Regions from separate parts of the Homo sapiens genome. Here all the other regions are linked to region 4. The links come from fine-mapping of genetic effects on gene expression. A gene starts in region 4. Each other region holds a variant in brackets. All regions are shown on one strand. Distances are between the middles of the regions.

Region 1 (5,130 bases), 99 kb before region 4:
CACTCGGCAACCACCATTCTACTTTCTGCCTCTTTCTACATATTTGCCTATTCTAGAATACTACTCTTTTCGATCTCTCAATTTTCCTGAAAAAGACTTAAAATTTCTGGCAAATTTTCCAAGTAACCTTTTCAATAACCAGGTAAAGTGAGATGGGGTAAACATAACCGAGGTTCTAATTTTTTAAAATAACTTTGTGAAGAAGCAGAAAAGTTGTCATCTCCTAGCAACCACTGTCCAAAAGGCTTCAAACCACTGATCTGTAGGGCACAGAGTAAGTATTTGTAGGTGAGGGAACCCCATGGGGAAAAAACAAGGACAAGGAAAGTGTGTGGCTTCTGCAGCTTAAAAGTGTTCCACTGATACTCATAAGGCTCTCTCTACCCTGTATTTTACTGCATGTAAACTATACCTCAAAAAGTTGTGACAAATAAGTAAATCCCCTAGAGACCAATGTACTTCAATAGCGACGCTCCCCTCAGGCCTCCTGGGTGCTTCCCTCACATCACCTCCTGCACGGCCTTACCTCCCCTGCTTCCCTCGTCCCCTCCACCCTCTGCACCTCCATCATCCAAAGACAGAAATGTCATCTTTAGGGCAATGTGCCAGAGAGGAAAAGCAAGGGCTTGGTTACATGTCAACTGTGCGCTCAGGCAGTGCTACTCACTTCATCAGTTTCTGCTTTGTGGCAGAATCTTTGAAGCTTCTAAATTCTTCTCCTGCTTTGATCTCATAAAACTGGGGCTTTAGGACTGTCTGCTGGTCCTCCTTGAGTCGTTCCTGCCGCTTCACTTTTTCCTCCTGCTGGAGGAGTCTGCGTTGCTTCCTGACCTCTTCAACCCAGGCTTTTTCATCATCTGAACTCTCCGAACTTTCTGCATCACTTGGTTTTCCTTCCGGCTCTTCCTCCTCTTCCTGAGAATAAAAATAGTAAGCAGCAACTCCTTTCCCCCAGTCAAACACAGACCCCTTGGTTTCTCTGAAGCAGCACTGGCCCATTAATGAGTGCCTAACAGCTGCTCTACTGCATGCATCAGGAGAAATGCCTTTAAATAAATAAGATAATACTCCTAAGCCCAATGTCAAACACTTAATATGGAATTAATTACATCTCAAGTATAATCAAAGACTCTTCTAACTTACAAAGAAAACATTACATTAAAGAAACAGTAGCAAATTCTAACTGATAAGGAGTACATTACTTTTTCACGAAGTTCTTGTTGCTCTAAGAGTCTTAGTTTCTTCTTCCTTTTTTCACTAATTTTTGAAACAAGTGGATTCAGAAGCCTAAATTCTTCACTCTCTTCATCTACTTGGAAGTCAGGGTTCTCAAACATAACTTTAAATCGATCATCGGTGAGAATATTAGGAAGACTCTACAAGGAGGAAAAAGTACGTAAAAATTTAAGTTAATATCTGACTAAAATTTGACCAGAAACATGGTTTTAAAACACTGATTCTATTATAAGTTAATAAGCGGCATGAGGCATACATTATTAACTCATTATGAAATTTCTTCCAGGACTTTCAACGTGCCCCTAGGTTTTAGCTGCCACCACCAAAACAACCTCTATTAATCTACTTTGCAGATGCTCTACACCACTTGGCCATTACACACAATGAGCCAAGAATGACCCTTTTGGCTAACTTTATGCTTAACAGATTAGAAAGAATTTCTTCAATTAACATTTTAATGCAAAAAAACACCTTTCAAGAAGATACTAGGTTTTTAAAAAGTGGCTTTTATTATTTTTTAGAGATACGGTCTCACTCCAGGCTGGAGTGCAGTGGCACAATCACAGCTCACTGCAGCCCCAACCTCCTGGGCTCAAGTGATCCTCCCACCTCAGTCAGGCTCCCAAGTAGCTGGGACCACAGGTGCACCACCGCACCCGGCTAATTTTTTATTTTTTGTAGAGATGGGTCTCACTATGTTGCCCAGGATGGTCTTGAATTCTTGGGCTCAAGCAATTTCTCGTGCCTTGGCCTCCCATAGTACTGGGATTACAGGCATGAGCCACTGAAAACAGGGCTTTTAAATAAAGCTTAGTTACTACACTGACTTAAAATAAGCAATTCTTTCAACTTCAGATTCCAAAACTGGGAGAGGAGGTATACAAAGTCAGTAACTCACATGGTGGGATGCAGGAAGCTGGTGATGTCAGTTTACCGATTCCAGCTGAGTTACTGGGAAACAGAAGGGACGTTTCCATCCCCTACAGGGTTGTTTCATCAATATTCCCCCTCAGGTCAACTAATTGTTGTCAAAGGATATTGTGTATCCTTCAGATACAAAAACTTTGGCTACTGAGACCCATTTAGATAGCTCAGGACTGATACTAAATTCCTTTTTATTTGTACCATTTTCAATGGAAAGTTTTCTAAACTGTACTGTAAACTTACCTGTTCACTTAAGTAGATGACAGAGAATCTTACACATTTAGGACTGTCTTATTGTTCCTTCTCTGCTACAGGCTTGGAAGCCAGATGAAACGGCTTACTCAGAATTGTTTGTCAATCAGAGTAAACAGCCCTGAACACTGCTGGAAAAAGCTGACCTGTTTGTGATGGACTCTGACTCTGCTGAACAGACTACTTTACTATTTCTCCACTGTTGAGAGTAAACAAGATTGCAGGCAGTTGAGTTCTGAATATTATTTGTGTGACAGACCTATACAAAAGTTTAGTAAATCATAAGATATTAAGGAACTTGGCCTGTTTATTATTTGTATGTACCTAAAAACAGATAAACCCTTACCTAAAATTCTAAGATATTAAATGCAGCAAGTTTCCCTGATTAAACATCATTTCCAAGAAAGACTTACAACGAAGGGAAAAAGAAAGGTAAGATCGAGTTCCTGATCCTAAACTAGTAAGGAAGAAAAAACACTGCAAACACGTGCTACTAGGCCTCTTCTGAGGGCTGCTCGGTAGTGCTGAAAGTGCCACAGGAGAGGACAGAAAAAGGAATCCCAACAAAAGACACCCCAGGAGGGGCCCTG[G/C]GGGGTGCAGCATCAGGGAGGGGGCTTGAAAGATGAGTAGGTTTCAACAAGTAGAAATCTGAAGAAACAGCATTTCCAGCCGATGGGAGTGGTGAATAGTCTGGCGACATAAGAATGATGCAATTTCAAAACAATTTTTTGATTGGGTCATACTGTAAAGGATTTTAAATACCATGACTGTTATTTTGAAGATATAAGGGGAAACCACTAGCGAAGAGGAGGAGGGGGAGGAAGAAGAGGAAGAGAAAAAGGAAGAGAAACGAAGGAGGGAGACAGGGAAGGAGGGAGGAAGGAGAAGATGGATGATCAACAGAAGTGTGCTTCAAGACTCCCAGATGACAGAACTGGCCAGGTGGTGGTTCATGCCTGCAATCTCAGCACTTTGGGAGGCTGAGGTGGGAGGACTGCTTGAGGCCAGAAGTTCAAGACCAGCCTGGGCAACATGGTGAGACGCTGTCTATACAAAATATAAAAAATTAGTCAGGCGTGGTGGTGCATGCCTGTAGTCCCAGCTACTTGGAAGGCTGAGGTAGGAGGATCGCTTGAGCCTGGGAAGTCAGGGCTGCAGTGAGTTGAGATCACACCATGTACTCCAGCCTGCGTAACAGAGAGACCTTGTCACAAACAAACAAACAAACAAACAAACAAACCAACCCAAAATTGTGCTTCAAAAGTCTGCAGCAGCCTGATGTCTGACGGACTGCTGAGTAAGAAGTTAGCATCATGAGAAGACTAAGAAGCCATTTTAAGAAACTGGCAAGAGAGACAGGGCCTGAATTAGGGCAATGGGAACAGACAGTTTTTAAGAAAGAATAATTACGAGATACAGTTCTAAATTAGAATTGACAGATCCAGCTATGGAGATGGGAGGGTTAAGAATTAAAAACAGGGTTAGAAACTTCTCTCAAACATGTAGCTTAAGCAACCAGAAAGCTGGCGACACTGAGTTAGAATCCATCACTGGAGAGCATTAGGAAAAAACGCAGGGGTGGAGTAAAGGGGAAGAAATCACGCTCCATTTAGGGCTGCCTATGCCTGTGGCACAGGGAGAAGAGCACCAGGATTCAGACGGACACCACTAGGTGTCTGGGAACGATGCGCCATGTCTCAGGAGAAGGGAGGGGGCTATGATGTAAATTTTGGAGTTATCTGTAGATATCGGATAGATGATAGTGTGAAAGATAATTTCAAATGAATAACTATGTGCCTATTACACATTTTCAGGTTAAAAAAACCCAAGGGCAAATATTTACTTTTCATCTTACTATATTTATTAAAGTAATAATCATATTTAATAAATAGAGAAAATGTTACAAAGACTACATATGTTGCTGGTATTAAGATTTTTTTCTTAATTTAAAACAAATCAATTGCATTGCCTAAAGACAAGTATGCTTTGGATGAACAACTATAAAATAAAACCTCTTCTGACCCAGCTTGTAAAAATATTTCCCTCAGGGTTTTTTCCTAGTCTGTTTGTTTTCACAGCTGTCTTAAGGAAAAAAGTAGGATAAGGTATAGCTATTAATGTTCTATAGGAGCTTACAAGTGTCTGGCTAGTGATCCGTCCTATAAATACCCGTCTACACATGCTCAACTTTACCATTAAAATATAGAAAACATTAAAGTACTATTCATACCACAGTCCTACCTGGAAGAATGGTATCTGTCTACCTGAGTGGGACGCCTATTATTATTTTGTTCCAACATAGTAACATATATGAAGAATGATTGCCATTTGAAACAAATTAGTTTTTTTTTTTTTCTTTTTTTTCTTTTGAGATGGGGTCTTGCTCTGTCACGCAGGCTGGAGTGCAGTGGTGTGATCTCGGCTCACTGCAACCTCTGCCTCCCGGGTTCAAGCGATTCTCCTGCCTCAGCCTCCTGGAGTAGCTGGGATTACAGGCACGCGCCACCACGGCCGGCTAATTTTTGTGTTTTTAGTAGAGACGGGGTTTCACCAGTTGGTCAGGCTGGTCTCAAACTTCTGACCTGGTGATTCGCCTGCCTCGGCCTTCCAAAGTGCTGGGATTACAGGCGTGAGCCACTGCACCCCGGCCAATCAAATTAGTTCTTTCAATGCTATGATACCTATGAAGTTAGGCTGGTACAGACTTCTGAGTAAAGA
Region 2 (5,130 bases), 92 kb before region 4:
TAAAATATATACATACATATATATTAGCTGGGTGTGGTGTGCACCTGTAATCCCAGCTACTTGAGAGGCTGAGGTGAGAGGATCACTTAAGCCCGAGAGACTGAGGCTGCAGTAAGCTATGATTCTGCCACTGTACTCCAGCCTGGGTAACAGGCTCTATCTCAAAAAACAAAAGTACAACAATGTAATGCTGAATACCAACTTAATCAAAATCACAATATAGCTTCCTTGGAAAGGAAAGTTATCAAAAGATAATGCCTAACACTAAAAAGTTAAGAGGTAGGACTACAGGCAAGAGGGAGGGAGGGGGAGGGGGCAGAGAGAGAGAGAGAGAGAGAGAGAGAGAGAGAGATTTATACCAAAATAATCAGCAAAAAAGGCAAAAGTGGTTGTCTGAGAAGAGGTGAAAATGGAGGAAGGCAGAGGGAGGAAAAGGGGCAGACAATGGGATGGCCTACATTCCTAACAAACCTTGGAGAAATGTTTAGGTTTTTTTTGTTTTTGTTTTTGACAGAGTCTCACTCTGTTACTGGGCTGGAGTGCAGTGGCACAACCATGGCTAACTGCGGCCTTGCAGGGAGATCCTCCCACCTCAGCCTCCTGAGTAGCTGGGACCACAGGCATGCACCACTACACCCAGCTAATGTTTTGTAGAGATGCGGTTTCACCATGTTGCCCAGGCTGGTCTTGAACTCCTGGGCTCAAGTGATCCTCCCTGCCTTGGCCTCCCAAAATGATGGGATTACAGAAATGTTTTTTTGTTTTGTTTTGTTTTTGTTTGTTTGTTTGTTTTTTGAGATGGAGTCTTGCTCTGTTGCCCAGGCTAGAGTGCAATGGCGTGATCTTGGCTCACTGCAACCTCTGCCTCCCAGGTTCAAGCAATTCTCCTGCCTCAGCCTCCCAAGTAGCTGGGATTACAGGTACGCACCACCACACCCAACTAGTTTTTCTATTTTTAGTAGAAATGGGGTTTCACTGTGTTGGCCAGAGTGGTCTCAAACTCCTGGCCTCAAGTGATCTGCCTGCCTTGGCCTCCCGAAGTGCTGGGATTACAGGTGTGAGCCCATAATGTTTGTGTTAGGCACTGTGCCCAGACTGAAATGTTTAGTTTTTAAAACTATGCATGTATAACTGTAATTTAAAAAAAACAAAAATTTTAATTGATACTAAAAAAGCTTTAAAAATAATATTTTGGATGTTAAAACTGACCTGATCCAACCCAAAGTATCTGTACCTAATTGTATTCCCTAGAGAGATGAGGTATTACTTTAATATAAGTTCTCAGTGGTATTTAGTAATTCCTGAAACTGCTAAAATATCTCTTCCATGGGTTCCTAACCACAGAATACACATAGCCTAGAACAGTGATCCTCAACCTTTTTGGCACCAGGGACTAGTTTCGGAAGACAAGTTTTCCACAGATGGTGGTGGGGGGCGGGGGGCGGGCGCGAGGGAGTTTTGGGATGATTCAAGCGCATTACATTTATTGTGCACTTTATTTCTATTATTATTACACTGTAATAACAATGAAATAATTATACAACTCGCCATAATATAAAATCAGCGGGAGCCTTGAGCTTGTTTTCCTGCAACTAGAAAGTCCCATCGGGGGCTAATGAGAGACAGTGACAGATCATCAGGCATTAGATTCTCATAAGGAGCTCGCAACCTAGATCCCTCGCATGCGCAGTTCACAATAGGGTTCATGCTCCTATGAGAATCTAATGTGGCCACTGACCTGACAGGAGGTGGGGCTCAGGCAGTAATGTGAGCAATGGGGAGTGGCTGTAAATACAGATGAAGCTTGAGGTTCACCTCCTGGTGTGCGGCCTGATTCCTAAAAGGCCCCAGACCAGTACCATGGCCTAGGGGTTGGAGACCCCTGGCCTAGAGATCTCATGCACAGTCCTGCCTGAGCTGCTGCAGAATGAAAGAAAAGTACATTCATCAGAGACTTTAAGGCCACAGCAAGAAACTGACAAAAAAGACTAACATACAAAAAATGATACCTATAGGAAAAATAGCTCTAACCAAAACTCAAACCCTCACAAATCAAACAGATCACAGATGCCCATGCCTCTCAAAGCTGTTTGTGCATACTGGAAATTCAATACATATTTGTTGAAAGAATAAATACATTCATTCATTTTTTTTTTTAAAGAGATGCTGTCTTGCCCTGTAGCCCAGGCTGCAGTACAGTGGTGTGATCATGGCTCACTGCAGACTCCAACTCCTGGGCTCAAGTAATCTTCCTGCCTCAGCCACCCAAAGTATTGGGAATACAGGCGTGAGCCACTGCACTCGGCCTTAATTGTTAACTAGAATTAATGCAACCAAAATTTCTGAGTTTGGATAATGTCCATATAATACTGATTGACATTATGTGGTGGGCCACTTCCCATTTTAGGTTCAATATCAACCATACAGTAAACATCTTATTCGATTTTTGTGTTCTCAGTGGCAGCAATATTTAGGAACACATTTCACTGTCTCCAATAAATTTCAGCTGCAGACAAGGCAAAACATACCTTTCAAATTGGTATTGCAAGATACCTACTTTCAAATCAGGAGGTATCACAGCTAGTAAAGTTCTCAAGCTTTTGAGGAGCTGAGTTCAAAGGCGAGACTAATGATCTGCTGATGAGACTTAGCAATTCTTTCAAGTAGTCTTTTAAATTATAATGAAGGATTCTTTCCTTAATTCATGAGTGATTTCTAC[G/A]ATCTTCACTTTACATAAGATGAAACTGTTCAACAACAAATTATACAAACTTTTTCCAAGCACAGCCTCAGATTTTCAAAAGACCATATATAAATATTTCTGGAATGAAACTGAGCTCTGATAATAGGTCTGATTTGGGCTAGGAAGTCACCAACAAGAAGATTAGGGGCACATTTTACAAATAGTACTCTTTGGAAGAATTCTGTTATCACGTGATATGGCTACAAAGATCACATTTCCAGCTATGAAGAGCTGAAGAGAAACTGCTGTTTGATGGAAGAAGATAGGAATTTCTAAGGTTCTTCCTCCTTTTCACTGGAAGTAAAATGGTACACAGCTTGGTAATTCTTTACAGGGTGACCCACCAATAGGTTTTAAAATAATCAAATGCCATCCTGATAGTTAATTAGAGAATATGTAGCAACAAAATGAGTGAACATCAACGGAACGTAGATGTGACTGGAGATAACAGAAAGGCAAGTTCTTGATTCGCACGGTGCCAAAAGGAAGGAGTAGCTAAGGAATGCAGTTAAAGAATACCAGGTGCCCCAACAAGACGGTTCAAATTTCAGTTATCTCTGTTCATCAACTGAGTATGTTCATAAAGTATAACTCCACAGCGAGCTCTTTAGTCCACAAATCCCTACGTAAATAATGGGTTGCTTTTCTCAAAGCCTGTCAGTGACCGGACACTGCATCAGGCGGTGTGATGCACCGTGAATTTCCTGTTCAGTTCCTGCAGACAGGACGCGTGTGTAACTGTTGCATTGCTTCTTCAGATACCGAAGACAAACTCGTGTGACATTTACAAAAAAGAATAATTTACAGAGAACTAATCAACAAGATAAAACTGCAACAACAAAAATGTGAATCAAATTTAAAGGGAGTTATAGAAGAAAGAGCTGGCTGTGGGAATACAGGGAATGTGGCTACTGTCACTGGCTGGCACTCTAAGTCTGTAGTGAGGGGACCACGTAATGGTGAACCTCTGAAAACAAATGAGGAAAACAGCTGTGACAAGAAGAAGAAAAGTGTCCCAGTGGAAGTGACACTGGCAAAAAACTTTACATGAAAGGAACTCTCAGAGACAATTCATAACGTCAAAAGAGCAAAGGATGAAACATCGGAAGCTTATCCAAACTTAGAAAGTGAGTATGACAATTTGCTGAGGCAAAGAAAAATGCTGGCTCCGTATCAAAAGTTTAGGAGGAGAAAAAAGTAAGCACTGTTCCAAGTACTATTGACAAAAGAAATAAAAGAAAGAAAATAAAATACTCAATTAGGCTTTATTCCTAATGTTTTAAATTACAATATAATGAAAAGATCCTAGTTTTCCAATTTATAATGGACAGTAAGAGAGTTTTTAATGTTTTGTCAAAAATGTTTAAAGGCATGGAACAATGCTAATTTTCCCACCTGACCATGAGGATTGCTCTGCATGTGTTCAACTTGTGAGGTCATTTCCACCATCCTGCACTATGGGGTATTCTAAATCTTCTCTGGCTGCCCTCAACCTCAGCAAAGGTCTACAAAGAAATGGGGGGAAGGGAAGGGCACTTCTGCATCTAGATAATCACAGGGCCTTATAAACAGGCTCTGGTATAGCATGCTGCACAAAGTAGCAAAATTAAATTGTAACTTAAGTATTCTTGCCTCTATCAGATGATAAAGACTCTGGCATAAAACACAGATAGGAATGCAAACATCTACAGTCTAAGTTAGCTCTACTCTCTATCTACTGAAGCCTTAGGGCATGGCATGTACATCCAAAGATCACTTCCATTTAGCTTTTACTGTAAAATGACATTACAAAGCAGAAAAGTTACCTCCCTAATCATGCTTAGGCTTAGCTAACAAGAAGATCAGTGTGAATACTCTGAGGAGAGAGTCAACACAGCAGCAAAGACTTGTATTCTAAACACTTAAAGATATATATATTCATTTATACACATTGGTGTAACTTAGGAAGGTGCAGAGCCATTACACACAGACATAAATTCAAATATTAATAAGTTTGAGGAATTATTTCAACATTGGCATACTATTCATGTCATGAAAATGGAAACCTAAAAGTCCTCTATTTACTTGAGAGGCTTCCAGAAATTAAAATTTAAACAATATACTAAAAGAATGTAATAAACGAGGATGAGGGGATGCAGGGAAAGACTAAGGAAGCAGAAGACAGCAAGGGGGAGTCTTGAGTCTGAATCCATTTGGAAAGCACAGCTCTAAGAATGCCCATATCCGGTCCTTGCATGTTACAGATGAAAAAACTGTGACCCCATGAAGACGAGCAATCGCCCAAGATTACATAAGCAGTGTGCCAAGAGCTAGGAACAAGACCCTTCAGTTGCAGTCCCTGGGTATTGAAAAGCATGAACAGAAATGAAGACAAAAGGAGCTCACCCATC
Region 3 (5,000 bases), 44 kb after region 4:
ACACCTAGCCACCATTCATAGTCTTTGAGAAAGAAAACTAATCTTTGGCTCTCTCATTCATAAAATCTGTCTGCTCTCAGACGAATGAAGGGAAGTAAAATCATGCTAAATCAAGTATTATCAAATCTCAGGGCCTGTCCTGTAAAAGTTAATATCCAAGAAAAAGTGACTTGATCCGGAAATGTTGACTCCCTTCTTAGGCTTCTCTGCACCACAGGGAGGTATGACTGGCCTTGTACAACTTATGGCCTAGCTGAGAAGACACATATTAATAAAATAATCACATCACATAATCAAATAATGCTAAACCTAAGAAAGGCCTGTAACAGATGCCATTGAGAACAGCCCACTGCCCTAGGCTAGTGAATGCCTTAGGTTTTCCTGGGCAGCAGTGACAAACCGCAGAAGGAGACTGGTCTCGTGCAGGAAGGTTGGCTTAAGAAATGTGAACTGGGCCAAGCGCAGTAGCTCATGCCTGTAATCCCAGCACTTTGGGAGGCTGAGATGGGTGGAATGCTTGAGCCCAGGAGTTCAAGACCATCCTGGGTGACATGGTGAAACCCCATCTCTACAAAAAATACAAAATTTAGCCAGGTGTGGTGGTGCATGCCTGTAGTCCCAGCACTTGGGAAGTTGAGGAGGGAGAATTGCTTGAGCCCAGGAGGTCGAGGCTGCAGTGAGCAGAGATCACACCACTGCACTCCAGCCTGGGCAACAGAGTGAGACCCTGTCTCAGGAAGAAAAGAATAAAAGAAAAAAAAAAAGTGTGAATAGTTCCCTACCTGCTGCAGAAATGGTAGCAATTCTAGAGCTGTCTTTGCTACCAATTTTCTGTCCTAGTGCAAGTCTTTTAACCTCTTATTCACTAAAACCCCTTTAGCTCTGAAATTCTGTGATCCTGGATTGTTATTGTTTCCATTTTAGTTTCTTTCTTGCTTTCTTGCTCTTCTTGCTTTCTTTCGCTTTCCCTTCTTCCCTCCATCCCTCCCTCTCCCTCTCTCTCTCTCTTTCTCTCACTCTTTCTCTCTTTCTTTCTTTTTGACAGAGTCTTGCTCTACTGCCCAGGCTGAAGCGCAGTGGCGTGATCTTGGCTCACTGCAACCTCCGCCTCCCGGGTTCAAGTGATTCTCCTGCCTCAGCCTTCCAAATAGCTGGATTACAGGCACCCACCACCAAGCCCAGCTAATTTTTGTATTTTTTTAGTAGAGACGGGGTTTCCCCATGTTGGCCAGGCTGGTCTCGAACTCCTGACCTCAGGTGATCCGCCAGCCTTGGCCTCCCAAAGTGTTGGGGTTACGGGCGTGAGCCACCATGCCCAGCCCTACTTTAGTTTCTTTTTTGTCTGTTTGCTCTGTTTCCCCAGTAAGTATATTAGTGTTCTGTTCTGTACATACTTGTTGCACAAGTTGCTTTTAGTGGTAGTATAGCATATGTTTAAGAAAAAGAAATGAAGGCCAGGCGCGGTGGCTCACGCCTGTAATCCCAGCACTTTGGGAGGCCGAGGCGGGTGGATCATGAGGTCAAGAGATCGAGACCATCCTGGTCAACACGGTGAAACCCCATCTCTACTAAAAATACAAAAATTAGCCGGGCCTGGTGGCAGGCGCCTGTAGTCCCAGCTACTTGGGAGGCTGAGGCAGGAGAATTGCTTGAAACCAGGAGGTGGAGGTTGCAGTGAGCCGAGATTGTGCCGCTGCATTCCAGCCTGACGACAGAGCAAGACTGTCTCAAAAAAAAAAAAAGAAAAAGAAATGAAAATGCGTGAACAGGCAAGACTGTGGCTATAATTGTGAAACAGATAGAACCTGTGCAAATTTAAGTGTTTTCTAAACAATAAGGACTAGGTGTGGCAAGAATGAAAAATCACTGTGCATTGTTTTCGTTTTCCTTGTGGGTATATATTCTTAAGAGCCTTCCTATCAGGGGGAAGGAAAATGGTGTGGTCTGAGCACGTCAAAATTCTAATCTTAGCTTTTTTCTAGTCCAGGGGTCAGGGTGTCCTGTGTTGGGAGTTGGTAGAGGTTGGGGTAAAAGAGTGGGTTATATGTACTAATAAATCTGGAGAATGGCATCAGTTCTTTGAAAAGTCCTCGAGTGTTATTAGGTAAATAAATGCTAGCTGGGTCTGTAACCTCGGTAGCATAAACCTGTCAGCACTGCTTCTGCCCAGGAGAACAGAGAAGGCACAAGCGTTTTCAGGGTGTATTGTTTCAATATCCTTTTATTATTTATTTACTTAGGGCACTAGAGTGTTTTTCCATGTAGTTGGAAGGCAGCTTTTGCTTACGAGAGCTTTCTCTCTCTTTTTTTAATTTATTCCTTCATACTGCCTTTGTTAATTTATTCTGTATTTGCCCTATCATTCATGAACATTTGAAAAACCAAATGCTATTATCT[T/TA]AAAAAAAAAAAACCTCTCTCCCTGTTTTAAAAAAAAAGTTTGAGTCCTTCACAGTATCTTAGCCTGTTTTGCGGTGTTGATTGACAGAGTGCATTTCCCAGGCGCTGGGGCGGTCAGCGGGACCTCAGCAGGACCTTCTGGGTGCTGTGGTGCTTGGTGACCGTTGCTTGCCCCTAAGTGCTTCCCCTGTCGTTGCTTGCCCCTGAGTGCTTCCCCTGTCTATGGAATAGCTGCTGGCTTCTTCTTTACCCACATGGTTCCATGGAGCTGACTGAGGGTTGGCTGATCAAAGATTTCATAGCTGAGTGTGGATGTCTGCTTAGTGATACGTGTGAGTCAGTTCTTGTAAGGGCATTCTAAAGAGAAGTAAACTGGAATTGTAAAAAGCATATAGGCTTTTCTTCTCTGTTGGTGGAAGAATGTCAGATTGAGATGACCTATGTGGCATTTCATGGGATTCAGTGAATAGACCGCGGTTGCATGTCTCTGTATGCCGCATGCATGGTGGGTTGCTCTAAGCTGCTGGCAGCCCTACTGTGTGTGTCTGCTGGGCTCCCACTTTCCATGGCGGCTGTTCCAAGCCTCTTCACCCCTCCTCCTCCCATCTGCCCCTGCTGAGCCCTCTTCCTCCTTCCCAGCTCCTGGAGACTCTTTTCCCCACCTCTTCCCACACCCTCTACCATCACACTCACAGATTTACCCTCTCTAACACACCCGGTGCTCCCCTCTTTCATGGCACTTGCCACAGTGGATTTTGACGTCTTCTTGTGGGATTATTTGGTCATATTTTTCTTCCCTGTCTTTTGCTTATGATTAGATCCCTAGCACCTGTAACATGGCGGCCCTTGGTGACTGATTGAATGGATGAATAGAGGGAAGCATCCTGGGTTATAAGAGCTGGGCAGCCCGTTAGAGATCTTATCTAACCTGCAAGAGTTCCAAATGAGGAAACAGGCCCAGAGAGAAGATCCTAGAAAGACAAAGGCAGACAGGGGTGGCAGAGGAGGGAATACACTCCAGATCCATCAACTTGCCATTAATGGTCTGCCTGTCTGGGTCCATCTGCCCTGGGGGACTCTGTGCCCTGGGCTTTCCACGATGCTTCCAGCTCGGAGTCATCGGTAGAACTGACCAGAAAATGGCCTTTTTCTCTTCCATTCCACCCTCCTCCCCGATTGTACTATCAATCATTGTTACTTATGAAAACACTTAATAGTATTTATAAATCTAGACATTTAAAATGGCTTACTGAGCCTGGGTAAAATAGCAAGACCTCCTCTCTACGAATAATACAAAAAATTAGCCAGGCATGGTGGGGTGTGACTGTATGCCCCACTACTCAGGAGGCTGTGGTGGGAGGATACCCTGAGCCCGAGTGGTTGAGGCTGCAGTGAGCCGTGATCGAGCCATTGCACTCCAGCCTTGGCAACAGAGTGAGACCCTGTTTGAAAAAAAGAAAAAAATATATATTTTGACATAAATAAAATATCTTGTTAAAGTTAATTTAACCTGTTTTTACTTTTTTAAATGTGGTGACTAGACCTTTTTTTTGAGATGGAGTCTTGGTCTGTCACCCAGGCTGGAGTGCAGTAGCATGATCTTGGCTGACTGCTACCTCCCCCTCCTGGGTTCAAACAAATCTCCTGCCTCAGCCTCCCAAGTAGCTGGGATTACAGGCGTGTGCCACCAGGCCCAGCTAATTTTTGTGTTTTTAGTGGAGATGAGGTTTCACCATGTTGGCCAGGCTGGTCTTGAACTCCTGACCTCATGTGATCTGCCCACCCCGTCGGCCTCCCCAAGTGCTGGGATTACAGGTGTGAACTGCCACGCCCAGCCTTAGACATTTTTTAATTACCCACGTGGCTTGAATTATATTTCTATGCACAGCTTTGGGCTGGAGCTCTAGAGAATTATTATCAAATTTGGACATGTGAACAAATCTCCTGGTCTTTTTTTTTTTTTTCTCTCTTTTTTTGAGAAAGGATCTTGCTCTGTCACCCATGCTAGTGTTAGTCATGATCACAGCTCACTGCAGCCTTGAACTCCTGGGCTCAAGCCATCCTCCTGCCTCAGCCTCCTACAGGAGTGTGCCACTATGCCTGGCTAATTTTTTTTTTTTCATTTCTCTTTTGTAGAGATGGGGGTCTCTTTATGTTGCCCAGGCTGGTCTCAAACTCCTGGGCTCAAATGATACCGCTGACCATGGCCTCCCAAAGTACTAGGATTATAGGCATGAGCCACTGTGCCAGGCCCTCCTGGAGACCTTGACAAAATGCAGATTCTGACTCAGTGGATCTGGGCTGGAGCCAGGATTCTGCATTTCTTGCAAGCTCCCCAGTGATGCTGGTGTTGCTGGCCTGAAGACCACATTTGGCATACTAAGGCTGAACACGTTAACTCACGGCTCTCAAACTTGAGTATGCATCAGAATCATCCTGAAGGTTTGTTAAAAATACATCACTGGTCTCCACCCCGAGAATCTGTGATTCAGGAGGTCTGAGTTGGGGCCTGAGAACCTGCATTTCTACGAGTTCCCAGGTGATACTGATGCTGCGGGCCCTGCCACTGTGCTTTGAGGATAGCTGCTTTGAATGGTAATGAG
Region 4 (5,130 bases):
CCAGAAGGAGAGAAGCAATATTTGCACAGATCAGACAACAACTGGGGTTCCACGTGTAGTTTAGGCACCACACCTCAAAGAAATAACCAGAAAATATTAAACAGGACAAGCAGGGGTTTCCAAATCCACTCAGCTCAAGCTACCCTCCCCACCACTCCACTGGAGCTCCTTGCCAAGGTCAAGGGCGCTCTGCATCATGCCAAAGTCGATGGTCATTTTTCTGCCTTCATCTTACTGAAGCTCTCAGTAGCAGCTGACACAGGTGACCACCACCTCCTCCTTGAAACACTTACTTCTACAAAACTACACATTTCCCAGTCTCCCCTTCCATCAGTGCCCACTACTCTTTCTTCTTTGCTGGGTTCCCCTCCTCTTCTTGGATGACAAATGCTAAGACTGCCTCAGGTCCTCAGCCTAGTTATCTTCTCTGTTCTTTCTCTCACAATTTGATCTCACCTAGTCCCAAATAACGACAGTAAATTCACCTGCAATCTCCATCCTAGTATCCATGCAACTGCTAACTACTCAACATCTCCATTTGGTATGTATTAGAACTTCAAATGTTCACTATTGAAAATAAAAACCTTGGGCCGGGTGCAGTGGCTCATGCCTGTAATCCCAGCACTTTGGGAGGCCGAGGTGGGTGGATCACAAGATCAGATCGAGACCATACCGGCCAACATAGTGAAACTCCGTCTCTACTAAAAATACAAAAATTAGCTGGTGTGGTGGCACGTGCCTGTAGTCCCAGCTACTGGGGAGGCTGAGGCAGGAGAATCGCTTGAACCCGAGAGGTTGCAGTGAGCCAACATCAGGCCATTGCACGCGACCTCAAAAAAAAATCTTGATTCTTTTTGCTCACTACGTTCCTCCTCTCCACCTTTCAATGTGTTCCTTCTTGATTCTTCTCCATGTCAGTTAGCAGCACCACCGTGCACCCACTTGTTCAGACTCAAAACTGAAGAGTTCTCTGATTCCTTCCTTTTTGTCACCTCAACTTCCCTCTACCAACAGTCCAATCCATTAGCAAGTTCCATTACCCTATCTACAAAGTATGTCCTGAATCTCACTGTGTTTTAGCATCTTCTTTGTTACCAGGCAAGCCCAAGCCACCGAAGTCGCTCACCTGGACTACCTAATTCATCCCGACTTGAACCCTCCCCAGCTAGACATTTGTCGCACAGCAGCCCACACAACAGTGACTTCCAGCAGCACTAAGAATAAAACTTGAACTTCCTACCTTTCCTACCAGGCCTACCTCTCCAGCCTCATCCACCCTGCTCTCGCCCCCTCACTCAGCATAGTGCAATCACACCTGTGCCTCTTCCGTCCTCCTACATGTCCAGTGCATTCCCATGTGGGGCTTTTGCACTTTCTGTTCTCAGCACTGAAAACTCTTCCCCACATCTTCACACGACTGGCTCCTCTTCATCATCCAAGTTTCTGCTCATATGTCACCTCTTGTAGAGAGGCCTTCCCCGAAGGTTTTATCCAAAACACTTTCTCTCAATATTTTATCCAAAACAGCTCTCTTCTAATCATTCACCACGAAAAGTACTTTTTGACTACCTTAAATTGCCTTATTTGCTCACTTGTTTATTTCCCTTTTCCCCAACAGGGAACCTTATCTGAAATGTCCACTATAGATCCCAATACTTAAAACAGAGTTGCTTGCACACAGTAACTTCTCAATACATGTGGAGAATGAATGAACAAAATGAGAAAGCTCATGGGGTGTGAAGAACAACTGGAAGACAGGGAATTATTCAAACCAGAATTTTAGGAAGAAAGGAAAAACCTAAGCACTGGCTCCAAATTTTTGTAGAAGCAGACGCATGGAAGGAGAGCTATATTTATTCTGTTTTCCAAGGGCAGGACTCAGGCCAACAGTGGCATGCTATAAGGTGACATATTTGAAAACCACTTTCTAACAAGTGCAGAGTCTCAAAATGGAAATGAGCTTCCACAAAAGGTAGTGCTCAGTGGTAGTGCTTGGACAGAGGCTGGATCATCACGTATAAGAAACAAAAGACAAGTTTCAGAGCCTAAGTGTGTCATGCTGGACAAGTCACCCTTCCCCTTGCTGGATCTCAGCTGCATATTAAACGCATTATTAAATCTCAGCTGCATTACTAAACACGAGAAGATTGGAAGAGAATTACCGACTTGTCCAAGCCCTCTCCAACTTTAAGACTAGGAATCAGGTTAAGTTCAACAAGTCTCGAAAATACTGTCCTCTACACCATAAATTCTGCAGATGCGAAGTCTGTATCTCCCTTGTTCACTGTTGTATCCCTAAGACCTGGCAAATGATAGGGACTCCACAAACAGCTGATGGCCATATGGGGGAGAGATGTGTCAACGAATCTGCCACGTTTTCCTCCTCGATGTACGGCAGGGACTGTGAACACCCAAAGAGGCCCAAATGGTTGCGTTCTCTGGAACAGAGAACTTTACAAAAGTTCCAGCAAAGCTCACTGACCCTGATTATCCCTTGGTCCAGTTTCTGGCGCGGTGACGGCAGTGTCCTTGTCTCCCAATGCCGACACCTCCCCCGGAAATTGTCAGCCGCCTCTGGGCCTCCCCGAGTCGGGGGGTGACCAGCGTCCAGCTAAAACAGAGGCTAGGGCCGAGGAGAGGGGCGGCTGCCCCACGAGGAGGACGACCCCCAAGAGCTCGAGAGTGAGGGGGCCGGGAAGTGACTCACCTCAGGAAGGGACTTGCCGCAGCTGAGGCTGTAAATCTTCACCTCATTGAGGCTGGAGACCTGCATGGCGCCGCACAACACTGTTCAAGTCCCGGGTCCTTTCCCACCAGCGTGCTCGAGCACCGTAATCCCGGGACCTCCGAGCCCCTGCTCCGCGGCGTGCGGCCGCTGGCGCCGACTGATGACGCACTTCCTGGAGCCGGAACACGCGGGCAAGTTCCCGGAAGAGGGAAGGTGGCTGAATCCGGGAAGAGCGGCGGCCGGGAGAAAAACTAGTGAGGCTCTGACAACCCGGCGTGGCTGTCGGCGACGCTGCTACGGGCAAGACTAGACACAAGCCGGGCGCGGTGGCTCACGCCTGTAATCCCAGCACTTTGGGAGGCTGAGGCGGGCGGATCACCTGAGGTCGGGAGTTCGAGACCAGCCTGACCAATATGGTGAAACCCCGTCTCTACTAAAAATACAAAAAAATTAGCCTTGCGTGGTGGCCGGCATCTGTAGTCCCAGCTACACGGGAGGTTGAGGCAGGAGAATTGCTTGAACCTGGGAGGCGGAGGTTGCAGTGAGCTGAGATCGCGCCGCTGCACTCCAGCCTGGGGGACAGAGCGAGATTCCCTCTCAAAAAAAAAAAAAAAAAAAAAAAAACTAGACACAGCTCTCCCTGCTGTTAGCATCCCGAGCGGCAGGAGGAGGCTTTCGAGTCTCTGCCCAGGCCGAGATGTCATCCTCCCGGGCGGGGGCGAGGCAGTTCAGCGAGTGAACCCAGCGAATGAAGGCGACCAGGGTGCGAATTCCGAGTGGAAGTGTATTCTCTTCTCTCCTCCAGTGTTTCTGCGATGTTACGTTAGAAGTACTGTAGGCCGGGTGCGGTGGCTCACGCCTGTAATCCTAACACTTTGGGAGGCCGAGGCGGGCGGATCACCTGAGGTCAGGAGTTCAAGACCAGCCTAGCCAAGATGGTGAAACCCCGTCTCTACTAAAAATACAAAAATCAGTCGGGCCTGGTGGCGCGCGCCTGTAATCTCAGCTACTCTGAAGGCTGAGGTGGGGGAATCGCCTGAACCCGGGAGGCAGAGGTTGCCGTCAGCTGAGATCGTGCCACTGCAGTCCAGCCTGGGCAACAGAGTGAGACTCCGTCTCAAAAAAAAAAAAAAAAAAAAAAGAAGACTGTGGCGTCATCTTCAACCCATTCCTATCTCTGGCCCTCACTTTCAGTATCTAAACCTGGATATTTCTAATTATGAAATATTTCCTTAAAGTAATCTGTTTTCATTCCTCCTGCTGAAACTCAAATACTTAACTATTTTTGGATTATAACTTTCCCAAGTGATCTTCTTACTTCCTTTGATTTAATGAACAAATTATTTTATGCCTTACTTTCTAAAACCCAAATATTATTGTTTTGCTCTCCTACCCACAACATTTTGGAAACTCTCAAATACCAACACCACATTGCATCAGAATTAGGTTGAGAGTTCTTCGTGGACCCTATATCATTTGTCCTTATATTCCCTATCCACCCCATCCACCCCTACCCAGAGTACCAGAACAGTGCCTGGCCTCTATTAGGCATTGCTACATATTTACATTTAGCCATGTACGTAGGGATATATTCCTTAACTCTGTCCTCAAATTTAAGATCCTCCACAAATTTTTAATTTTCTACACTGGTTACAGTTAAGAAAAACTGTAAACATCTTTGGGAAAGGTGGCATAATAGAATGGTTAGATCACAGACTCTGGCTTGGCTTGGTGGTGCAGGCCTATTGTCCTAGCTACTAGTGAAGCCGAAGCAGGAGAATCACTTGAGCCCAGGAGTTCTTGGCTGTAGCACGCAACGAGCGTTGGGTGTCCTCAGTTTGGCATCAATATGGTGACCCCACAAGAGCCAGGGACCACCATGTTACCTAAGGAGGTGTGAAGCGGCTCAGGTCAGAAATGGAGCAAGTCAAAACTCCCATGCTCACCAGTAATGGGATCATGCCTGTGACTAACACTGTACTCCAGCTTGGGCAACACAGCAAGACCCTATCTCTTGAAAAATAAATAAAGATCACAGACTCTGAAGCCAGACTGGCAAGATTCAAATCCCGACTGCCATTTTTAACTGAAAGACCTTAGGTAAGTTACCTAACCTCTCTGTACCTGTGTAAAATGGAGATAACAGTAGTATCCACTTCACAGAGTTATGAGGATGAAATACATTCATATTTATAAAACGTTTGGAACCCAGTACTTGGCACATAGTAAGACCATGTAAGTGTTTGTAAAATAAAACTGAAAATAAAGCCATATACCAAATAAGTGGAAATGTATCCAAATTCCATTAACATTTCCTTTTTAACAGTTTTATTGAGATATAATTAACATACTGTAAAATGTCCCCATTGAATGTACAATGTAATGACTTCTAGTGTATTCAG
Region 5 (5,130 bases), 130 kb before region 4:
TGTTGAAACTCCCCTGGGCTCGGGGGCTGTAGGCAGAGCAGAAGCCCCTCCTTTAGGCCCCCAAGCTCCACTTCAACAAACCACGTGGCTGTAACCAGGGCTTCCAGGTATGTGAGTTTGCCAGGGCTGCTGTCACATAGCACCACACACCAGGGGCTTAAACAGCAGGCACATCCTGTCTCACAGTTCTGGAGGCCAGAGACCAAGGTGTGGGCAGGGCTGGTTCCTTCTGAGGCTGTGAGGCCTCTGCCTTGGCCTTCTAGTAACTTGGGCTGAGCAGGGGGACAGAGCCGGCCTTGGCTCTTAAAGCCACAGGGCCCTTAAGGTGCCCCACAGGCTGGGGCAGGCACCACATCCAGTCCTGGAGCTGGGGGCCTTCAAATTCAACTTGCATCTGCCACCAGCATGCAGCTCGTCACCTCCCCTTCCCAGCCAAGCAGTGACAATGAAGGCCAAAATCCCTGGGAGCTGATGCCAGGTGGAAAACGCCCTCTAGATGAGGAATTGGGATGTGTGTACAATTCGAGGAATCTGATGAATAATTTGGGAGTCACTGAAGTGGGTAAGTCCACTGTATCCTTCAGCCGCGTCATGCACTGTGGAAGAACGCCGGGTGGGTTTCTTTCTCCTTTTTGATACCCACACTCACTGCCTCCCTCAATAATAAAACTGCATCCATTACAGGCCGAATTCCTGCTCCTGGAGAAGACGGGCACGGATGGGTGCAAGGGGCATTCAGGAAGGGGCTGACCCAGGGGGGCCGGAGACAGACAGCAGGGGCACTCAAGGCGATGCCGACAGGGTTCCCAGGGGCACTGAGGATGGGAGCCTGGCGGGTGAGCACCCAAGCCCAGCAAGGTCTACCCTTCCTCCCCTGGCCTGGAGGCTGTGGACCACCACCACACAGGCCCATGGGCTCAGGGCTCTCGGGCTTGCAACAGGACATGGAGAAAAGACTGAGAAGCCCAGCCCACAGTGGGGGTTTCTGGAATGTTCCCTTGGGAATGGAAGGAACAGGGACCTCTGCAAAGGCTGATTTGATTTTGTTGCCAAGCCTTTTATATAAGCCTTTCTCAGTCCCCCCACAGCCCCCCTACACTTGAATTTCTGCTTCTGGATATGTGTGCACAGATGGATAAAAATCAAACATAGAATGTGATGTCCCTCTCCAGAACATGTAAAGAACTACAATTCCTCAATGACAGCAACAGGAAAAAGCCCAGGCTGGGTGCCGTGGCTCATGCCTGTAATCCCAGCACTTTGGGAGGCTGAGGTGGGTGGGTCACCTGAGGTCAGGAGTTCGAGACCAGCCTGGCCAACATGGCAAAATACCATCTCTACTAAACATACAAAAAATTAGCCAGGTGTGGCGAATGCCTGTAATCCCAGCTACTCGGGAGGCAGAGGCAGGAGAATTGCTTGAACCCGGGAGGCGGAGGTCGCAGTGAGCCGAGATCACGCCACTGCACTCCAGCTTGGGCAACAAGAGAGAAACTCTGTCTCGAAAGAAAGAAAAAAAGTTAAACACAGAATTACCCTATGACCCAGCAGTTTCACGCCCGGGTATATATCCAAAAGAACTGAAAGCAGAGACTCCAACAGAGAGTGCACACCCATGTTCACAGCAGTGTTATTCACAGTCACCAGAAGGTGGAAGCGACCCACTTGTCCCTCCGCAGAGGGACGCATCAGTGCAGTGAGGCCCAGTCACACAGTAGATGCTAGTCAGCCATGGGCAGGCATGAAACTCGAATACCTGTTACCACACCGGTGAACCTCAAGAACACTACGTTAAGTGAAAAAACCAGACACAAAGGGACAAACTCCTCGAAAACACCACGTTAAGTGAAAAAACCAGACACAAAGGGACAGACTCCTCGACAACACCACGTTAAGTGAAAAAACCAGACACAAAGGGACAAACTCCTCGAAAACACCACGTTAAGTGAAAAAACCAGACACAAAGGGACAGACTCCTCGACAACACCACGTTAAGTGAAAAAACCAGACACAAAGGGACAGACTCCTCGACAACACCACGTTAAGTGAAAAAACCAGACACAAAGGGACAGACTCCTCGACAACACTACGCTAAGTGAAAAAACCAGACACAAAGGGACAGACTCCTCGACAACACTACATTAAGTGAAAAAACCAGACACAAAGGGACATGACTCCTCGACAACACTACGCTAAGTGAAAAAACCAGACACAAAGGGACATGACTCCACTGATATGAGGCACCCGGAAGAGGCAAATTCATAGAGAGAAAAGTCCAGTGGCGGTTACCAGGGGCTGGGAGGAGGAGGAAATAGAGAGTGTTTTGTGGGTGCAAAGTTTCAGCAGGGGATAATGAACAAGTTCTGGGGGTGGATGTTGGTGATGGCTGCACAACAATGAATGGATTCCTGCCACTGAGCTGCATGTTTGAAAATGGTTAAAATAAGGCCGGGTGCGGTGGCTCACGCCTGTAATCCCAGCACTTTGGGAGGCCGAGGCGGGTGAATCACCTGAGGTCGGGAGTTCAAGACCAGCCTGACCAACATGAAGAAACCCCATCTCTATTAAAAATACAAAATTAGCCTGGCGTGGTGGTGCATGCCTGTAATCGCAGCTACTCAGGAGGCTGAGGCAGGAGAATTGCTTGAACCTGGGAGGCGGAGGTTATGGTGAGCTGAGATCACGCCATTGCACTCCAGCCTGGGCAACAAAAGCGAAACTCCGTCTTAAAAAAAAAAAAAAGAAAAGAAAATGGTTAAAATAGCAGAGGAATTCTCCCCATGCAAGGGACAGGCCATTTCTCCTTGTCTGATGAAAAGTTCTGCAGATGCCCCAGGTGACAGTGTGATGCTTGTTGAGCAGTGGGCCAGGCCCAGCCTGGGATAGGGTCCCAGTGTTGTGATGGAGGGGAGGCTGGTGTCCAGGACGCCAGGGGCACCCAGTGCTCCTTTGGGTGCTGGCTTCACGCGTGGAAGTCGCGCAAGAGTCACGGAGGTAAATTCAAGTTGAGTCATTTGCAGGATGTGCAGAGC[G/A]GGGTGGGCCCTCCAAACTTGGCAACCTTGGAGGAAATGGTTTTATATTTTTTGACTCTCATGTAACCTAGACACTCAGCTGGGACTCTATTTCCTATTTCAAGACTTTTCCAAACAGTTGTGTTTCCAAAGACCTTCCTAAACACACAGCCAGGGGAAGGAACAGGACCTGCTGCTCCAATTCCCTCGGCTCCCAACGCCCCTCAAGTGTTTGCACAGGAAAATGGTAGCGTAGGACACCAGGCGGGCAGGAAGCCGCAGGAATCTCAGAAGCTGCTTTCTGGATTTGACCTCAGGCAATTAAAAAATAGCAAAATAGATGGTGAGTGAAGAGGGTTTATGAGCTGCAGACCCGCAAGGCTCTTGCAGGCACCGAAAGACACAACGGAGAGTCTGCCTGTGCGCACGCAGGCCTAGCAACCAGCATTTGCTCATTGTGCATTCCTGCACTCTCGGGGAACTTAGGGAGCCTCCCGTGGGGCAGGCAGAGGCTGGGAACTAGAGCAGGAAGGCCCGCGGGTCCATCCCATGGTCTCACTCCCTTTCCTCTTGTCCCCTTCCCCTTGGGGCATTCCCAAGGCTGCAGATACCGCTTACCGAGCGGGGCCCTGGCGGGGAGGGATGCGGGCCACAGCCAGATGGGACATCTGGTTGCTCTCTCCCGAAACACCCAACTCATTTCCTTCACCCTGTGTGGCTGCAAGGGCCAGCTGGCCTCCCTCCGGGGGTCCCTCAGCGTAAGCCGGTGGGGAGCTCCGAGGCTTGGTTTCTTCTGTCTCAGCAGACCATTTGCCTTGGTGCCTTATATTGTGTCTTTTTTTTTTTAATGGATTTTAATTTTTCCAACAGTTTTGGATTTACAGAAAAATTGAGAAGATAGTACAGGGAGTTCCCATAAACCCCACATCCAGGTTCCTCCATTATTAACATGGGGCATGAGTCCGGCCCATTTGTTCCGATGAATGGACTGACAGTCATTCTTCAGGTCCACTGTTGGCTCAGATCTCCTCAGTTTTCACCTTAAGTCCTTTTCTGTTCCAGGATCCCCTGCAGAAAGCCACAGGCCATTTAGTCATGGCCTCTTTAGGCCCCTCTGGCTAGGACAGTTCCTTGGGCTTTTTTTTTTTTTTTGTCTCCCTCTTTAGACTGGGAGCTCCTTAAGAGCAAAGGTAAAGCTCGCCCCCGCGAGTCCCCCCATGGTGCCTGACGTCACGCTCTGCCCATCCCAGGCCTCCATGGGTGATGAGAGGCCTGAGTTGAGGCACCAGCCCCAAATGTGTGCGATCACGCCATTGAGCAGGGAGAGATGGGGCTGGGGGGAATTTCACTTGCTTTTGTTACATTTCTGTAACATTTATGTCTTTAAAAATAATCAGCATACGTTTCTCTTCCAATTAGGAAAACTGCAGCAAATCAAGCCGGGAGCTGGGGCCTGGGCAGTTCATGATCTGGCTGGGTTCCCCGCTCAGGCAGTTCACGCGCACAGACCGCCCCCTGGAAGAACTGCGGCTGGAATGAGCAATTCTCCTGAGAAAGCAAAGACACGGACTCACAAGGGAGTTCTGGGCAGAAACGGAGACGGAGATTGGAGTGAAGCGTCCACAAGCCAAGGAGTGCCAAGGAGTGCCAAAGATTGCCAGCAACCCCCAGACGCTGGAGGAGGCCGGGAAGGAGCCTCCCCAGGAGCCTTTGGAGGGAGCAGGGCCCTGCTGACACCTCGATGTCAGACACCTGGCCTCCAGGACGGTGAGAGCGGGTTCTGTTGTTGCGAGCCACCCAGCTCTTGGCACTTGGTTACGCGGGTCACAGGACACCAGTAGAGCCATATCTACTCATTCATTTCAGAAACGTTGTGCCAGTACGTACCAGGCACTTTCAAAGACACCGGGGATACGGAAATAAAGAATAAATGGGATCCTTGCTCTCAGTGGAGTTTCCATTCTAGTAGAGGAAGATGAGCAAAAATAAATAAATGATAACTTCTGTCTGGGCGCGATGGCTCACATCTGTAATCTCAGCACTTTGGGAAGCTGAGGCGTGCAGATTACCTGAGGTCAGGAGTGCGGGACCAGCCTGGCCAACATGGTGAAACCCTGCC

Alleles and levels. Positions count from the first base shown, and alleles are read on the strand shown. Sizes are in standard deviations (SD) of each study's normalised expression. Not every link is listed here.
With allele C in place of G in region 1, the expression in testis of the gene that starts at base 2,887 in region 4 is higher (large effect, 0.82 SD a copy in GTEx).

Evidence for each region. PIP is the estimated chance that this variant, and not a neighbour inherited with it, causes the effect.
Region 1: its variant is the best candidate, but not a certain one, in a credible set for the expression of NOL10 in testis (GTEx, PIP 0.52).
Region 2: its variant is the best candidate, but not a certain one, in a credible set for the expression of NOL10 in whole blood (INTERVAL, PIP 0.78).
Region 3: its variant is the best candidate, but not a certain one, in a credible set for the expression of NOL10 in whole blood (INTERVAL, PIP 0.87).
Region 5: its variant is the best candidate, but not a certain one, in a credible set for the expression of NOL10 in whole blood (INTERVAL, PIP 0.72).

The regions. Positions count from the first base shown.
Region 1 is chr2:10,588,376-10,593,505 of GRCh38, forward strand. It overlaps NOL10 (nucleolar protein 10), which reads right to left. Exons shown (of 21, transcript NM_024894.4): 18 at 1,203-1,376; 19 at 668-915. Among named protein-coding and RNA genes, the nearest start is that of NOL10, 99 kb to the right of the region's middle. RefSeq lists an enhancer at 818-2,017. The variant G/C (reference allele first, on the strand shown) is at 3,003.
Region 2 is chr2:10,594,828-10,599,957 of GRCh38, forward strand. The region is part of intron 17 of NOL10 (nucleolar protein 10); the gene reads right to left. Among named protein-coding and RNA genes, the nearest start is that of NOL10, 93 kb to the right of the region's middle. The variant G/A (reference allele first, on the strand shown) is at 2,720.
Region 3 is chr2:10,731,239-10,736,238 of GRCh38, forward strand. The region is part of intron 3 of ATP6V1C2 (ATPase H+ transporting V1 subunit C2); the gene reads left to right. Among named protein-coding and RNA genes, the nearest start is that of ATP6V1C2, 12 kb to the left of the region's middle. The variant T/TA (reference allele first, on the strand shown) is at 2,398.
Region 4 is chr2:10,687,089-10,692,218 of GRCh38, forward strand. It overlaps NOL10 (nucleolar protein 10), which reads right to left and starts at 2,887. Exons shown (of 21, transcript NM_024894.4): 1 at 2,708-2,887. The coding sequence starts at 2,773. It also overlaps the pseudogene RN7SL832P. RefSeq lists enhancers at 2,334-2,393, 2,454-2,733.
Region 5 is chr2:10,552,226-10,557,355 of GRCh38, forward strand. No RefSeq gene overlaps it. Among named protein-coding and RNA genes, the nearest start is that of ODC1-DT, 110 kb to the left of the region's middle. The variant G/A (reference allele first, on the strand shown) is at 3,033.